3 separate regions of the Homo sapiens genome follow, and all the other regions are reported to be linked to region 1. The links are microRNA targets in miRTarBase. Many come from high-throughput screens and were not tested one by one. Region 1 holds a microRNA gene; each other region holds the end of a gene's coding sequence.

Region 1 (3,347 bases):
AAGGAAGCACTCTTGATTTCTTTCCAGTTGTGAGAGGAAGGCAATGATGTCAGTGACGGATTGGCATAGCTGCTGTGTTCCACATCATAGGTATGACCTTATCGTAAGTTTGGCTTCTTATGCCCAGGACAGATCCCGATTCCTGATGTAACATGAAAACATGAGAGGCAGCTCCCACGAGTCACCTTAAATTCTCTGGTTAGAAAGTGACTTTCGACTCCCTTGTAGACTTACTATCAGCAGTGTCCACATGGAGGTGAAAATGAGGGGACACCATAAGGAAGCAAGACTCAGCCTTGATGGCACCTGTGCTCCAAGCTGAGCAGGCCTCAGGAGCAGCTGGTGGGCTCGGTATAACACAGGCTGCTGGTCAAAACCCTTCTGATGTAGAAGGTCTGGACTGGGGTCCAAAAATGGGGATTTCTAACAATCTCCAAGTTGACCTGCAGACCACACTTGAAGAACCACGGTGATAGAGAATCTACGAACTCAGATAACCCAGGAACCATAGAAAGACCCTAATACTTCCTTGATATGTGAGATAATTACCTGTCAGGAACACGCAAAGGGAGTCTACACCTAGAATTAAGGGGATACACTGACCCACAAAGATTCCTTTTCCATTGCAATTGTGAGTGAGCAAATCTAGCAGAGTCTATAGTACGCATAAAGTCAACAATGAACAAGACTAAGACAATTTAACTAAAAAATACAACCGTCTATGTATTTTCAAACTTTCCTTGGCATGAATACAATGGCATGGATCTTAGAATATCTGTTGATAATAAGAGTGAAAGGTAGATTTCCTGTTATTTTCACAGACAAACAGGAGAGGTAAGTGTTCAGATTTTCTGGTTGGTATGTCTTGATTCTGACCAGTTCCAGTATTCAGCTGTTTTCACCTGTAAAGTATGGATTTCTCTCTGCAAAAACCTCTGTCCCAATCTGATGAAGAGAACACCCAAAACAAAGCTCATGCCCAGAGAAAGGAGCATTGATATGGATTTGGAACCCAGGCATCAGCTGCCAAGGCTCTGTTGATATGACGGCATGTCCCACTGAAGTAAAAAGAAGGCATTTGAAGTATTCTATGCAGAGATCTATCTTCCTTGCATTCCTCCTCTGTATTGCTCTGATTCGATCTAAAGGAGCTTTGAAAACGTCAAAGAACTTTCATGTTTTGCTAGTTTATCATAAGTGTCTATCTTAAACCAATATTACAATTTTAAGCATGGCCTGGGTAGACATGTGCCATCTTCTAAAATGATTTCTGACACAAGGTAAGTTGTACCAGCCGAGACCAAAGTGAAAAGAATCATAGGCTCTATGACACTCAGGCTCTCCTACATTCTAAGAGTCTTTTTATTTCCCCCTAATAACCATTATTAATCATTTCAGAAACACGTAATCTCCTGATATTTTTACTATTCTAGACTTGACAGAAAAGGAGGGTTTTGAAGTTCTGGAAAGTCTTTTTATGTAGAGTAGCTCCATTCTTCCAGCACACAGCTACCACAAGGCTCAACTCTCCCTAAGCAGAATGGGATTTATTTATTTATTTCTTAATCCACTGAAGGGAAGCTGGGTGATGATGAATTCTTTTAAAGAAATCAGCATTTGGCTTTCAAAATGTTAAGCTATACTGGAAGTGGGTTGTGGAGGCAGAGAGCAGTCGCTAGCCATGGAGGAAAGCTTCTCAAATTCTTACTCAGCTTTTGTTTGGGGGAAGAGGTTTTCTTCCATTTTTATCAGCTCTCCGTCCCAAATCCTACAAGCTATGAAGGAGGGGACCCACCGGCCAGGGCAGGGGTTTCTGTGGCTTGCTGATGGTCACACGGCTGTCGGGACACCAGTATTTCTGAAATCCTTCCTGAAGAATTTCAGAAAAAAGAATTTCAGAAATACTGGTGCCTCCACAGCCGTGTCGAGGGCACAGGTGGGCATAGGCCTGGAGGTGGCTCCTGAATGGAGCAGCAGCAAGGGCTGTAAGGGGTCTGCACAAGGGTGTTTGATTGGCAGGTCTTTGACTCTCCAGTCGAATGACCTTCAGGCAAGTTACCGAATCTGTCTAAGCCTCAGTAGTTTTCATCGGCAAATGGGTCTAAGGATCCCTACTTTATTAGATTGCTAGGGGATGGAATAAGGGAATGCATGCAAAACTCAGCAGTGGGCCTGGCCACAGGCCTCAGTACCATCTCCCCGTGGCTGGTCCCCATTCAGCAATCACAAGGCTTCGGGGGTAGAGAAACATGCTGAGGCCAGCACACTGAAACCATTACAGGTTTTGATTTTTTTTTCTCACCACTCTCCTCCCTCCTCAGTTCAGCTTTCTATTAAGGTATCCCAAAACACTAACGCAGCTCTTGGTGAAAGGAGAAAGGGAAAAAGTGGCCAAATCAAGGGGTCGGGGGACAGCAGGGCCAAGGTCAAACACCTCGTTGGTATAACATCTTTTAATTTGAGGAGGAGCTCAGTCCCCATTATTTTCAGTAAATTCTCAAACTATGCAGCTCTATGTTTCCTCTTCTACCCTTGTAGCATCAACTCTGCAGTTTGAAGTAAGGTTTTGCAAAACTTATGCAAAAAGTTTTCTTTTCTACAAGAGATGCTGAAGAAGTCACCTGGAATTTGCTAGTAGAACTATCAGTAAAATGAAGACAGCAATCCTGCCTTCAGCCCAACTCCACTGCCCAGAAAGGCTGGCACTGTGGGGACGAAGGGGGCAGTGGCAGCTCACCCTGATGCAGAGAGAGCGGCAAGGGACTCTGATGGTGAGTCAGCTGAGGGAAGCTGCTGGGGTCTCAGCACACCGTATAGAAAATCCCTCCAGCAACTTCAGAAAAACTGAATGAAAGGCCAAAGGTAACATAAACCGCCAGCTCTACCAACCACTCAGGCTGCAGACCAGACAAGGGAGTGGATTGTTCCCATGGTGGCTGCACCTTTCCTTCATTCTATTCCCGCTATCTTAGTTCACGCTGCCTGTGGATCAACTCGGGATCTCAGACACATCTCGTCACAATTATCAAGTGGCAAAAAAGGTGAGCCGCCATCCCCTTGGAGGTAAAGAAAGGCATGACGAAGTCTTAGGGCCAACAGGGGAACGAAGTCTTAGGGCCAACAGGGTTCCCCCGGTGTCTCTCCTGCAGCATGAAGGCCATTGTTTCCAGGGCCTGTGGCCAGGATCCAGTTATCTTGCCTGGAAGGATGTTCAAACAGCCATGGCCCGTGGTGGTTTTTTATAATGGTGTTGTTGGAAATTAGTAATACCATCCAGAGGTGAAAACAGAGTAGCACCTCCACAGCCTGCCCAGGAGATCAGGAATAATGAAGCCTCATTTTAGCAT
Region 2 (3,347 bases), not on the chromosome of region 1:
CAGCCAATGGGGAGATTTGTAGAAAGCTCATAGATGCTAAAAACATGGGTCTTTAGGAAAATTAGAATTCAGCTGAGCCTCCTTTCATTTGGACAATGTTCAGAAGCTCTTACAGGGGGCTATGGCAATCTTTTGATGCTTCTTATAGCTTTCTGAGGTTAACGCTTTTGTGGTGGGCATCGGTAGCAATAAAATGCAAACTTTATTGCATTTCCAGTAAAATCTCTCCCACTTTGAGCAGGAAGCACTCACAAAAAACGCATATACATGTCAACGTTGTGAGCTCATCAGAGTTTTAGAAATCAACTTCCACAGTGAAAGCCAATGTAGGCAGAAGGTTTATAACAGAATCCCCAGGCAGAGAAGTGAATTTCAGAGCATTTCAGGGAGGAAACTCCTCTGCACATGTCAGCATGTTTAACATCGATGATGGCAGGTTGTGTGCTGGCAGCCAGAGTCTGAGGCCACTGTCCAAAGTTCAGCGTCAGTGGTTCCTGTTGCTGGTCATGGAGAGAGACAACTGGAAAGTCAGGTGTCTTCACGCTCTAACTAGAGCACAGGGATGGACCATAGCCATGCTAACCTTTGTTAACCCCTAGGACTTGTCAAGGTGTTTAAGCAGTAGGAATGAGGAAACAACGTTCTGATTCAAGTAAATGTAACTAGAAGTAAAAATTTAAAAACTTGTAAGCTCACTAAAGTGAAGCTCTGCAGACACGGTTCATATCCTGGTGGCTGAGGGCACATAACCAAGAACTTACACAAGCACCCCCAAGCCACAAAGATCCCAGCTGCTATGGTTGAGGGGTAACCTGCCAGCACTGGAGCCAAGTGTTGGAGCTACTGATCCAAAGTTAGCTCACTTCTGCAGAGGCTCTGAACCAGAGCAAAGAAATGGCCCAGTGCAAGCCCAGTGTGAGCCAAGAGTTGGCCATGTAATCAGTTCTGGCCCAACCAGGTTTGAAAGGTAGAGGAGCAGTACTGGGTTTTGGAGAGGGAAGGTTGGAACAAAGCCCTTTGCAGGCTATAAGCTTCATTTACTAGGCCAGGTCTTTCTGTGTGAATGTGCTTTGACTTTGGTCTGTTTATATGCATGGGGTAAACGTGGGACAGCCTCTGCAGCTTCACTGCCTGCCGGACGTGGGTCCAGGGCTGCCAGCTCTGGGTCCTTGGTCTGTTGGGGGTCGCAAACTGAAATGGCCATGGGGCTATCTGGGCAGGCAACACAGATGAGTGGGGATGGGGGACCCCTTCTGTACAGAGCAGCCTCTACTTAGTGGCCGCTGACAGGCTGCCCCATGAGGACGCAGGCCCAACATTACCTAATTTAATCTTCTAGAAGTCAGAATTCTGAATTTTTATGTCAACTCTCGACTTTTTTTTTTTTTTTGAGACAGAGTCTTGCTCTGTCGCCCAGGCTGGAGTGCAGTGGCGCGATCTCGGCTCACTGCAAGCTCCGTCCCCCGGGTTCACGCCATTCTCCTGCCTCAGCCTCCCAAGTAGCTGGGACTGCAGGCGCCCACCACCACGCCCGGCTAATTTTTTTATTTTTAGTGAGACGGGGTTTCACTGTGTTAGCCAGGATGTTCTCGATTTCCTGACCTTGTGATCCGCCCGCGTCGGCCTCCCAAAGTGCTGGGATTACAGGCGTGAGCCACCGCGCCCAGCAACTCTCGACTTTTAAATGTTAGCGGCCCAAAGTGCTGGGATTACAGGCGTGAGCCACCGCGCCCAGCAACTCTCGACTTTTAAATGTTAGCGGCAGACCAAACCAAACAAACACAGCTGCAGGACGGGTCTGGTACGCAGGGCTCCCACTTTGCAGTCTCTGATCTGTAGGCCGAACAACGGCAAGAACTGTCTGGATCCCACAAACATCCCCAGCCAAACTTCTGAGGCCTTAAGGGGAGGAGGCCTTGCACACCTGACTGGAGAACAGGCCTAAGAACTGCAGTGTTCTGTTTCCTGCTCTGCTTTAGAAAAGAGAGGAGACAGAAAACCAGAGGGTCTTTTAATTGGAAGCAAGGGTGGCCCTTCAGAGTCTCAGTTAAGAGTCAAGGAAAGATGAGATCACTTGGGTAGCTCAAGAAGGGAAAAGGATTTATTAGACCATTTCCAGGACAGGGACCCAGGGGCAGTGGCTGGGTTCAGTGTTCTCACGCTCAGAGGAAGAAAAGGCAGTGGTGAACACCCGCCTGACTGCCTTACCCTGATCTAAACGACACCATCTCCTCCCCCAAGGAAGACACAGCCCTGGATGTGAACCTAGGAGGGTGGGAATGGCTTATGTCACTCGGTCTTTGAGGCAGAGCTTGGGCTGGGGTTGCAGGGGCATCAGCCAATCTGCTCTCAAGGAGCAAAACTTGGGCGTAAAAGGAACGGGCAGTGGGGCTAGCCGGCTGTCTGGAGGTCTGGGTGACCTGGCAGCACGGCTGCTTCTCCCCCGCCACCCCGCCCCACTCCTTGACACTTCCAGGTGATTTTATCTTTATAAATAAGATGAAAATCCAAGCAGCATTAATTTAGGGGAACAAAAGATGGAAAAAAAAGGGGGGGAGGCAGAAGGAGCTGATGAGCATCCAGGAGAGGAGGAAGTAGGAAGAGCAGTGTCCACTGTGTGCCCCAGGGCAGTGGAGTGTCTCTGTGGCTGCAAGGCCCTTCCTTCTGGCTCCCTGGCAGACGGCCAGACAGCAGAGGGAACTCTGTATTGACTGGGACAAGCCCTGGAGCCCTGTCTGGCTGTTGACATGGGGAGTGCCTGGATTTGCCCCAATCAACCTCCCACCTTCACCATTGCCCAAGTGAAGCAGCTTTTAACTCTCTTGCCCAAAGTCCTCTGAGAATTTCTTCACTTTCAGGAGGTCGTCTGCATTCACCGTGGGCCGGGTGGTGGCCAGAGACCGCAGCATGTCCGACTGTGAAGGCAACAGTATGTGCCTGAGCAGGAGCCAGGCTCCAGGTCCCCAACCTCCCCTCAGCACACAACAGGCGCAGCTGAGGGTGGGAAGAGGTTTGCCTTCAAGGCCACCCCAGAGGCCTGCTTGAATCTGCCTATGGCAGGGACCCTCTTCCCTCTCGAGGCAGCTCAGATGGGCCTCCTCCTGGTCTGAGAATCTAAGCTCCATCATCTCATAACTCCCCTTACGAACTTGCTTTCTTTTTTTTTTTTTTTTTTTTTGGAGACGGAGTCTGTCACCCAGGCTGGAGTGCAGTGGCATGATCTCGGCTCACCGCAACCTCCACCTCCTCGGTTCAAGTGACTCTCCTGCCTCAGCCTCCCAAATAGCTGGGACTACAGGCACGTGCCACCACACATGGCTGATTTTTGTATTTTTAGCAGAGACGGG
Region 3 (3,000 bases), not on the chromosome of region 1:
GGGTGTGAAGGGTCTCGAGTCCAAGTGAGGGAGTTAGGGACTTGGGAGGGGTTGTTGTTGGGTCGGGGACCTGGGGTCAGCCAGGTGGTGACCTGGGATGGGGTGGGGACAGGCAATGAGGTAAGCTCTGCTCTTTATTTTTTTGCAGATGCTTTTCTCAAACTTTCCTGATCCTGCGGGCAAGCTAAACCAGTTCCGGAAGAACCTGCGGGAGTCGCAGCAGCTCCGATGGGATGAGAGCTGGGTGCAGACTGTGCTCCCTTTGGTTATGGACACATAACTCCTGGGCCAGAGGCTAAAACCCCAGGACCCCTGCTGTCCTTCCCGCAGCTTCTTCTTGGAGTCTCAGGGCAAACCCTTTCGAGCAGCACCTCCCAGTGGCCAGAAGCTGAAATGACAGCAGTGGTACTGCCTGGTAAAAGAATTGGTTCTGTGACCCGGGAAGCTTTGGTTGGCCTTGATTTCTTCTCTGGAGGCTTGGAAACGCTTCCTCTCTTCTTCTGTTCTTCACGCCCCATGCCCCTGCTAGCGTATTACTGTTCTGTGACTTCCCTGTGACCTCTGCAGAACTCCTCATCCTGCGTTTGGTCTCCAGGTGTCCCCTTTCTGCCGTGTTCCTAACATTTTGATTCCTGTCTTGAAAAAAGCACCTGCTGCACCGTAAGCCCAGGGATGTGGCAGCTGCAGTGGGCTTGGCTTTGTGAGGAACTGAGTGTGTCCACGTTGGGGGAACATCATACTTGATACACACGTTTTTATTTGCACAAAGAAAATGCTATTTTTGGAGCCAGAATTTTCATGTCTGATTTATGGTGATTTTCTTAAGAACCAGAACTGCTGGCAGAAAGGGGGCACCCACACGCTTAGATAGCCGATGTCTTATTAGAGGGCAGTTTGTGGTTCCTGATTTGGAAATTAACATTCTCCAAACATTCCAGTCCAATGAAAGTTTTATCCGCTTTCCCATATAAAAATTCTTCCCATGAGAGTGACTTGATTCTCACAATCCCGTTGGAGTCGTGTGTGAGTCCTACAGGGTGAGATTCAGCATTGCCATCTCCAAGTGCTCTTCGTAGGGAAACAGTTTCTGCTCATGACGAGGTTCCACTTCCCATCTGATCCCGGCCCGGCCTGGAAACAGAGCACATGTGTTTGAGGATGGCGGTGTTTGGGGACAGGACATGAGGGTATTGTGTGGGGCTGCTAGGACAGGCCTGGCGGGGTAGGGGGGTGTCCAAGTCAGTTTACTTGGTTCACAGGTTCCCAGGCCCACCCAGGTGCCTAGAATTGGCCTCCAGGATGGGACCAGAAAGCTGGTTTTGCATAGAAATGGCTAGCAGCAGGCACCGTGCCGCTGTCCACTCTCTGCCTGTGTCTGCCCCAGCACTTGGCACAGCGGGACAGAAGCAGAGATCTGAATAGTCAACCCACTCTTCACAAAGCTTAGAAAGCGGCCGGGCACAGTGGCTCATGCCTGTAATCCCAACACTTTGGGAGGCCAAGGCGGGCGGATCACTTGAGGTCAGGAGTTCGAGACCAGCCTGGCCAACATGGTGAAATCCCATCTCTACAAAAATACAGAAATTAGCCAGGCATGATGGCGAGTGCCTGTAATCCCAGCTACTTGGGAGGCTGAGGTGGGAGAATTGCTTGAACCCAGGAGGTGGAGGTTGCAGTGAGCTGAGATTGTGCCACTGCACTCCAGCCTGAGTGACAGGGTGAGACTAAGTCTCAAAAAAAAAAAAAAAAAACCACACGCACCACACACACACCCACACACACACACAGCTTAGAAGGGGCTGCTGTTCTCATAAGCACAGATGTCTGAAGAGCCGTTAGCCAGAATGATTCTTTTTTTTTGTTTTGAGATATGATCTTGTTCTGTCACCCAGGCTGGAGTGCAGTGGCACAGTCATTGCTCACTACAGCCTCGACTCCTGGGCTCTAGCAATCCTCCCACTTCCTGAGTAGCTGGGATGACAGGTGCGTGCCACCATGCCAGTAATTTTTTTATTTTGTAGAGATGGGGTCCTGAACGCATGGCCTCAAGTGATGCTCCTGCCTCAGCCTCTTTTATTATTTGTTTTTAGACGAAGTTTTACTCTGTTCCCCAGGCTGGAGTGCAGTGGCACAATCTCAGCTCACTGCAACGCCTCCCAGGTTCAAGTGATTCTCCTGCCTCAGTCTCCCGAGTAGCTTTGACTATAGGCGTGCACCACCACGCCTGGCTAATTTTTGTGTTTTTAGTAGAGATGGGGTTTCACCATGTGGGCCAGGCTGGTCTTGAACTCGACCTCCCGTGATCTGCTCACCTCAGCCTCCCAAAGCCTCAGCCTCTTACAGTGTTGGGATTACAGGCGTGAGACACTGTGACCCGGGACGATTTTCAATCACAGTTTTTTGTTACGAGTGGAAAATGCGTATTTATAAGAATGAAGTAGTACAGACATGAATGTGTAGAAATCTCTATAATCCTGCCATCCAAGGATGGCACCTGTTAATGTGTATATCAGGGATGTCCAATCTTTTGGCCTCCCTGTGCCACACTGGAAGAAGAAGAATCGCCTTGGGCCACGCATAAAATACACTAACACTAGCAATACCTGATGAGCTAAAAGAAAAAAAATCACAAAAAAACCTCGTACTGTTTGAAGAAAGTTTACAGATTTGCGTTGGGCCGCAAGTTGGACAAGACTGCTATATGTATATTCTAGGTTTTCCCCTATAGGTATACTTATGTGAAAATGATTATTGTGATAAATTTTGTTTTGAGATGAAGTCTCGCTATGTTGCTCAAGGTGGCCACAAACTCCTGGGCTTAAGCCATCCTCCCGCGTCAGCCTCCTGAGGAGTTGGGAATATAGGTACTCATAACCATGTGTGGGTGATTATTATTAGTTTTTAAACAAAAATGGGGTTGGGCGCAGTAGCTCACGCCCGTATTCCTAACACTTTGGGAGGCTGAGGCGGCAGATCACTTGAGGTCAGGAGTTCAAGACC

Evidence for each region. The annotated mature microRNA hsa-miR-3167 reads AGGAUUUCAGAAAUACUGGUGU and lies in region 1 at 1,847-1,868, opposite strand. An mRNA with a match to its seed (bases 2 to 7 or 8) in the 3' UTR can be bound and repressed. Matches are read on the target gene's strand: a 7mer-m8 pairs with bases 2 to 8, a 7mer-A1 pairs with bases 2 to 7 and ends in A, and an 8mer does both.
Region 2: miRTarBase lists VPS4A as a target of hsa-miR-3167. Seed matches in the 3' UTR shown: 7mer-A1 at 2,760-2,766.
Region 3: miRTarBase lists ALG1 as a target of hsa-miR-3167. Seed matches in the 3' UTR shown: 7mer-m8 at 1,556-1,562.

The regions. Positions count from the first base shown.
Region 1 is chr11:126,986,622-126,989,968 of GRCh38, forward strand. MIR3167 (microRNA 3167) reads right to left here and starts at 1,921; the gene lies at 1,837-1,921. The region is part of intron 1 of KIRREL3 (kirre like nephrin family adhesion molecule 3); the gene reads right to left.
Region 2 is chr16:69,323,776-69,327,122 of GRCh38, reverse strand. It overlaps VPS4A (vacuolar protein sorting 4 homolog A), which reads right to left. Exons shown (of 11, transcript NM_013245.3): 11 at 184-2,915. The coding sequence ends at 2,814. COG8 (component of oligomeric golgi complex 8) reads left to right here. Exons shown (of 6, transcript NM_032382.5): 6 at 1-695. It overlaps PDF (peptide deformylase, mitochondrial), which reads left to right. Exons shown (of 2, transcript NM_022341.2): 2 at 1-210. Among named protein-coding and RNA genes, the nearest start is that of PDF, 5.1 kb to the left of the region's middle.
Region 3 is chr16:5,084,602-5,087,601 of GRCh38, forward strand. ALG1 (ALG1 chitobiosyldiphosphodolichol beta-mannosyltransferase) reads left to right here. Exons shown (of 13, transcript NM_019109.5): 13 at 149-2,778. The coding sequence ends at 280. It overlaps EEF2KMT (eukaryotic elongation factor 2 lysine methyltransferase), which reads right to left. Exons shown (of 8, transcript NM_201400.4): 8 at 1-1,131. The coding sequence ends at 1,031. Among named protein-coding and RNA genes, the nearest start is that of EEF2KMT, 12 kb to the right of the region's middle. RefSeq lists an enhancer at 1-539.